Homo sapiens: one gene and its partner. The protein of the gene in region 1 purifies or fractionates together with the protein of each later gene. This does not show direct contact. Each region holds a gene or a part of one and is shown in the gene's direction. Other genes may lie near its edges. The genes, in order: GZMK and ITGB7.

The links.
Region 2: the proteins of GZMK (region 1) and ITGB7 purify together in Homo sapiens (affinity purification with mass spectrometry; one large-scale study listed by BioGRID and IntAct). This does not show direct contact.

The regions. Positions count from the first base shown.
Region 1 is NC_000005.10:55,026,935-55,030,755, forward strand, and holds part of GZMK (granzyme K precursor), read left to right. Parts: intron 1-3,499; coding exon 3,500-3,650; intron 3,651-3,821.
Region 2 is NC_000012.12:53,200,431-53,204,251, reverse strand, and holds part of ITGB7 (integrin beta-7 isoform a precursor), read left to right. Parts: intron 1-3,057; 5' UTR 3,058-3,180; intron 3,181-3,798; exon of another isoform or gene 3,799-3,805; 5' UTR 3,806-3,808; coding exon 3,809-3,821. UniProt on the Homo sapiens protein: Integrin ITGA4/ITGB7 (alpha-4/beta-7) (Peyer patches-specific homing receptor LPAM-1) is an adhesion molecule that mediates lymphocyte migration and homing to gut-associated lymphoid tissue (GALT).

The DNA.
Region 1 (3,821 bases):
TAGATGGAACCTTCCACAGCCCCTTCCACATGGCCTCACTCCATCTCAAATGCTCAAGGCTCCTGGAACAAAATGGTTCAATGTTCAGGCTCTAGATTCAAGCCAACTGAGCTTTAATCCTGCCCGAATTTGCCTCCTGGAGGCAAAGGTCCTCAAGTTTATTCGTTTACCTGAACCTCAATTTCTTCATCTATAAAATGGGGATTGTCATAATACCTATCTCACCACGCTGTTGTGCGGTTTAAATGAGGGAAGCTTTGTAAAATGCTTAGCACAGAACACAAAGAACTTAATAGATGTTATCGAGTATTGTTATACAATTATCTGTGCCTTCCATGGTAATAACCAAGGAACTAATCTGATGTTGACGAGATAAGACTGGGAAGACCTCCCTCTCTGACAGCCAAGTTCTTCTCCCTCTCTCTTAGGCAAGAGAAATCTCCAAGACATAGGGACCCTGCCTTTGCTGCCAGACCTCAAGGGGCGGGTCTAAGCAGAACCACTGTTGAGTGTCCAGGCGCGCTGGCAGAGAAAAGAAGAGGCTTGAAGGGGGTTGGCACGGGGTTCAAAGAGGGATTGAGGAAAGAGCACTGGACTGGGAGTCACCAAAAGCCAAATTTGGGTCCTGATTCCCCTATTTATGAGGTGTGTCACCTTGGACCAGTCAGAGAACAATCTTTTACTGGTAAGGAATACACAGCCCGTCAGCTTTACCAGCCTTGAAAAAGGTTATTGTTAGGCTCAATGGAGACAATGTTTACAGATGTCTTCAGCAGACCCACTATAAGCCGCACTGTAGTTCTGCTCCATATATGAATCTCTTCCAGGAAAGCTCAGGGTGGGACTCCGGAAACCACATTTTAAACCAACACCTCCAGGTGATTCTGAAGCAAGTCTGAAGACTGCATTTGGGGAAATCCTGTGCTGTGCAACTGAAAAACACTGGCATTATTACTTCCTCTTTGTGTGAATTCAGACTTCAGTTTAGCTAAGGAGGTGGCATCCCAGAACTCAAGTAATTCCAGGTACCCTGTGGGCAGAAAATTTGACCTGAGTAGCACAGATTACAGTTGAAGGATATCTAGAAATTGAAAGGTCAGAAGGAATAATGGTCTGCTTGGGTTGTTTTTGGTCTTAACATGTCCCAGTGGAGACAAAAATAACCAAAACATTTCAAAGGCAATAACTAGCCGAGTAAATTAGTAAAAGACGAAAGAAACCCAGACATTTTTTCAGCATCCCTCCCTTAGTGAGAATCCACCCTCCATACCTCTCATTTGTACCTCATAGCCTTCTTTGTGTGAGTCATTTAGGCACGTGCCCACCTTTCTGTTAGAGCATTCATCCTGAAGATTTTTATGTCATCCTTCTCCTACAAAGTTTTGGGTTTAGTGGGTATGTTGAATTTGAATTCAAATCAATCCTAGGAAATCCAGTCCACATCCTATGAGAAATTTCCACCCGGTCCTGATTTTGCAATAGGCAAACTTTTCAACAAATAGAGCTGGAATTCCCAAAATAAATAAAAATAAACTCTTTTGGTAGAAACCAAAAAGTGGTCATTCCAGGCAGTCACAGCTCTGCCATAAGCAAACCCACTCTACCACAGGCATTTGCCATTTTCAAATCTGAAACAATCATGTCTTCCTTTTTCTGTATGTTTCTGTGCTCTTTGTAACTTTTATTAATCTTTATTAATCTATATGCATGAGTATGTGTGTTTTTACTGCAATCTACTTTGGTAGCTTTTCCAAGTAGCAAAGAAATAGTTACATGTAAACAAACAAATACAATTAAAAGATCTGAGGTGGACTTCATAAAGATAGACACTGTAATGGAATGTATCTGTAGTATACAAATGGCTCTACGGTTCTGCCAAAATCTCCAAAAAATTATTTCTACTTTATCACTGCTGTAAATGTAATTTTATCCAACAAAGAGTAAATCAGATCAATTGTGGCACTGTTGAAACACTGGTACTAGAACTGTGTATGACCAGAGATTTAAAAAGCAAACCTTGCCAGGCACAGAGACTCACGCCTGTAATCCCAGCACTTTGGGAGGCTGAGGCCAGTAGATCACCTGAGGTCAGGAGATTGAGACCACCCTGGCCAACATGATGAAATTCCGTCTTTACTAAAAATACAAAAATTAGCCAGGTGTGGCGGCACAAGCCTGTAGTCCCAGCCTCTCGGGAGGCTGAGGCAGGAGAATCGCTTGATCCTGGGAGGCGGAGGTTGCTGTGAGCCGAGATGGCGCCACTGAACTCCAGCCTGGGAAACAGAGCAAGACTCCTTCTCAAAAAAAAAAACGTTAAAAAAGAAAGCCAAAAAACAAACCTATTTCTTCACCTCACTCACCAGTTCGTATCCTCTAAATCTCCCCGATGGAATGGCTACTAACCTTAAAGTATCTTCATTTTAAATTAGCACTGTTTTCTTACCTTGAGGAAAGTTTTCCTTTCTTGTCCAAATCTTTGTTCTAATTGAGGGGACAGGACATATGGACATATCTGACTGTCATGTAATAGGCCTTACTTCCCCACATTGACCTGAGATGAAGTCTAGGCATGTGGGTGAGCAAGTGTAGGGTGGGGATCTTTGTGGTTTTTGTTTGTTTGTTTGTTTGTTTGTTTGTTTGTTTTTAAGAGATGGGGCCTTGTTCTGTCACCCAGGCTGTGACACTTCAGCCTCCAGCTCCAGGACTCAAGCAATCCCTCCTGCTTCAGCCTCTCAAACAGCTGGGACTGTAGGCATGCACCACCATGCCCAGCATGCACCAGTGTGCCCCTTAATGTTTTTTTAGAGATGGGGGTCTCACTGTATTGCCCAGGTTTCTCTCAAACTCCTGGCCTCAAATGATCCTCCCACCTCAGTCTCCCAAGTGGCTGGGATTACAGGCATGAGCCACCACACCTGGCTACCTTAATTATTAAAACACTTAATGTTGGGAAGATAAAAAAAGTTCTGGGGTTCTGGAGATGATAGTGGTGGATGAACAACAATATACATGTCCTTCATACCACCAAACTGTACATTAAAGAATGGTTAAAATGGTAAATTTTACCATTCTTATACCATTATGTATACTTTACCACAATAAACAAATTTTAATGGTAGTTGGTGTAAATCTCAAACTACAAACTCAAGGAATATAATTTGCTTTATTTTTACATAAATGAACATAATTTTGTTTTAAACTTGATCTAAGTCAATTAGGATTTCACTCCTTTTTCTTCCCCCAGTTGGATACAAGTTCTGATATTCTTTTGCAATGCCAGGGAATTGGTTTAGGGTGGGATTAAGGGCAAGTCATTTGGCCCTTAATATCAATTCATGCTGGGCTCCACTAAGACCTTTGTCACTCCACCTAATCTTAGGCAGGTTACCTTGGAGATAGCCCTTGTTTCTCTGTGTATACAACCCTCTCGACCATCACCACTCCCCACTGGGGGATTTGGAAATCATTCTGCTGCTTTCATTGTCTTTGCTTTTTTTAGGTTTACCAAAGGCCAGTCTCCCACTGTGGTTTTAGGCGCACACTCTCTCTCAAAGAATGAGGCCTCCAAACAAACACTGGAGATCAAAAAATTTATACCATTCTCAAGAGTTACATCAGATCCTCAATCAAATGATATCATGCTGGTTAAGGTAGGTAGTAGCATTGTCTTCCTTCTATTTTGTCAACATTTTTATACAGGATGGCTCAATTAGTTAAATCACCTACAAAATGCATTTTGCTAGCACCCTCCCCATGTTTGAGGTGATTATGATATATTTTATAAGGGCCCATGTTATTCCATATACTGTCTTGAAAGAAAC
Region 2 (3,821 bases), on another chromosome or scaffold:
ACCACCACCATGCCTGGATAATTTTTGTATTTTTAGTAGATATGGGGTTTCACCATGTTGGTATGGCTGGTTTTGAACTCCTGATCTCAAGTGATCCACCCGCCTCGGCCTCCCAAAGTGCTGGGATTACAGTCGTGAGCCACTGTGCCCAGACCCATTTCATTGCTTTTTATGGCCAAATAACGTTCTGCTGTATGGATATACCACCTTTTCTTTATCCATTCATCAGTTGATGGACATCTGGGTTCTTTCTACCTTTTAGCTATTGTGAGTAGTGCTGCTGTGAACATTTCTGTACCAGTTTTTGTTTGAACACCTGTTTTCAATTCTTCTGAGTATATACCTAAGAGTGAAATTGCCAGGTTATAGGATAATCCTATGCTCAATTTATTGAGGAACCAAATTGTTTTCCACAGAGATTGTACCACTTTACATTCCTTACACGGTAATGTATAAAGATCCCAATTTCTCCATGTTCTCATCAACACTCATTGTTTTTCATTTTTTGATAGTCATTCTAGTAGAAGTGAAGTGGTATCTCATTGTGGTTTTTTTCTTCTTCTTTTCTTTTCTTTCTTTCTTTTTTTTTTTTTTTTTTTTTTTTGAGACAGGGTCTCGCTCTGTCGCCTAGGCTGGAGTGCAGTGGCCCGATCTTGGCTCACTGAAGCCTCTGCCTCCCGGGTTCAAGCGATTCTTGTGCCTCAGTTTCCCGAGTAGCTGGAGCTACAGGCATGTACCACCATGCCCAGTTAAGTTTTGTATTTTTAGCAAAGATGGGGTTTCACCATGTTGCCCAGGCCGGTCTTGAACTCCTGACCTCAAGTGATCCACCCACCTCAGCCTCCCAAAGTGCTAGGATTACAGGTGTGAGCCACCATACCCAGATCATTGTGGGTTTCATTTGCATTTTCCTAATGATTAATAGTGTTGAGCATCTTTTCATTTGCTGGGTGGCTATTTGTCTATCTTCTTTGAAGAAATGTCTTTTTAAGTCTTTTGCTCATTTTGAAAGTTGGGTTGTCTTTTTGTTGTTGAATTGTAAGAGTTCGTTATATATTAAGGATACTCATCTGATATATAATCTGCAAATATTTTCTCCCATTCTGTGGGTTGTCTTCGCTCTCTTGACATTGTCTTTGATGCACAAAACTTTAAATTTTTGATGAAGTCCAATGTATCTGTTTTTCCTTTTGTTGTTTGTGCTTTTGGTATTACAGCTAAGAATCCATTACCAAGTCCAAGATTATGAAGATTTACCTATATACTTTCTTCTAAGAATTTATAGTTTTAGTAGTTATATTTAGGGCTTTGATCTCTTTTCAGTTAACCTTTGTATATGGTGTGAGGTGGGGAGGGGGTCCAACTTCATTCTTTTGCATGTTGAAAGCACCTTTTATTTTTTGAGAAAAAGTGGTGGCGTGTGCCACTACACCCGGCTAATTTTTGTATTTTTAGTAGAGACGGGGTTTCACTATGTTAGCCAGGCTGGTCTTGAACTCCTGACCTTGTGATCTGCCTGTCTCGGCCTCCCAAAGTGTTGGGATTACAGGCATGAGCCACGGTACCTGGCCTTTTTTTAAAGATGGAGTTTCAGCTGGGCATGTAATCCCAGCTCATGCCTGTAATCCCAGCACTTTGGGAGCCTGAGGCAGGTGGATCACTTGAGGTCAGGAGTTTGAGACCAGCCCGGCCAATGTGGTCAAACCCTCTCTCTACTAAAAATACAAAAACTAGTCGGGTGTGGTGGCGCATGCCTGTAGTCCCAGATACTTGGGCGCCTGAGGCCAGAGAATTGCTTGAATCTGGGAGGCAGAGGTTGCAGTGAGCTGAGATGGCGCGACTGCACTCCAGCCTGAGCAAGACTCCATCTCAAAAAAACAAAACAAAACAAAAAAGACAGAGTTTCACTCTGTTGTCCAGGCTGCAGGGCAGTGGCACAATTGCAGCTCACTGCAACCTCTGCCTCCTGGGATCATGTGATTCTCCTGCCTCAGCCTCCTGAGTAGCTGGGATTACAGGCGCCCACCACCACACCCAGCTAGTTTTTGTATTTTTAGTAGAGACGGGGTTTCACCATGTTGTCCAGGCTGGTCTCGAACTCCTGACCTCAAGTGATCCACCTGCCTCGGCCTCCCAAAGTGCTGGGATTACAGGCATGAGCCACTGTGCCCAGCCCCAGCCCCATTTTTTGAAGACAGTTTTTCTCATTGAATGGTTTGGCACCCTTGTTGGAAATCAATTGGCCACAGAAGCATAGTTTATTTCTGGACTCTTTCAATTCTATTCCACTGATGTATAATATATGTGTATCCTTATGCCAGTACCACACTGTCTTCTTTTTTTCTTTTTAAGAGACAGGGTTTCACTCTGTTGCCCAGGGCAAAGTACAGTGACACGATCATAGCTCACTGCAGCCTCAAACTACTGGGTTCAAGCTGTCTTCTCACCAGCACTGGGATTACACGCATGAGCCACTGCGACCAGCCAATGCTGTCTTGATCACTGTAGCTTTGCAGTATCTTTTTTACAAGATTATTTTGGCTATTTGGGGTTCCGAGCAATTCCATATAAATTTTAGGATCAGCTTTTCCATTTCTGCAAAAAAAAAAGGGCCAATGGGATTTAACTTTTTGACTTATGAAGCGTGGTAAATGAATTACCTGCTCATTTTAAAAAATTAATATGTTTTTTTAAAATCAGGAATTTGCTTGGCTTTCCTGAAGGTCACTCAAGGTATTACCCTGTCTCCAGGCTCTTTCTTCAATCTAGATTATCTTTGTGCAAAGTACAGAAAGTAGAAAATTTTTTTGCCAACACTGGCCTTTCTCCCCTTATCCCAGACCTGCAGAGAGTTCTTGTGGTCTAATCTTCATTCCTCTTGCTACCATGTCAACCAAGCAGAACTATTCTTCCTTGACTCTTTCACACACTCCCTCATCTGCTCCAGCTTTCTTTTCTTTAATTCCCAGTCACTGACCCTCTTCTCTTATTTAGAATCCAAGATTGTAAAAGCCGCCAAGTATGTCAGACTATTTATTCAACTTCTCCACTTTGCAGATGTGGAAACTAAAGCCCAGAGAGAAAGTCTGACTTGCCCCACAGCCAGTGAGTGACTGCAGCAGCACCAGAATCTGGTCTGTTTCCTGTTTGGCTCTTCTACCACTACGGCTTGGGATCTCGGTAAATAGAACTGGGTGCAGACTTTAGTGCTTTCAGGCTCAGTCCCCAAATCCTTTAGTAGGCCATTTTGCCCACCTTGGCCACATGAAGTCTGCACACAGGAAGGACAGATCTTCTCTGAGGCCCCTATTTTTTTTTTTTTTAAGACAGATTCTTGCTTTGTCACCCAGGCTGGTGTGCAGTGGTGTGATCTCGGCTCACTACAACCTCCGCCTCCCTGGTTCAAGCAATTCTCTTGCCTCAGCTTCCTGAGTAACTGGGATTACAGGTGCACGCCACCATGCCTGACTAATTTTTGTATTTTTAGTAGAGATGGGGTTTCGCCATGTTGACTAGGCTGGTTTCGAATTCCTGAGCTCAGGTGATCCACCCACCTTGGCTTCCTAAAGTGCTGAGATAACAGGCATGAGCCACCACGTCCGGAGGCCCCTACCTTTGCGTGATACCTGCTCCTTCCCATTATTTTGAAGAAACTGCTGAATCCACAGGGGAAGTGAAACTATGAGGGGAGATAAAGTGTTGGGGCAGAGTTTTGAGAGTGATAACCACAAGCTAAGTTTAGAGGACTGAGAGTTTGAGAGTCCTCCCTGAGGACCCACATGTCCCCCTTTATATCCTATTACAGGGCATGGTGGCTTTGC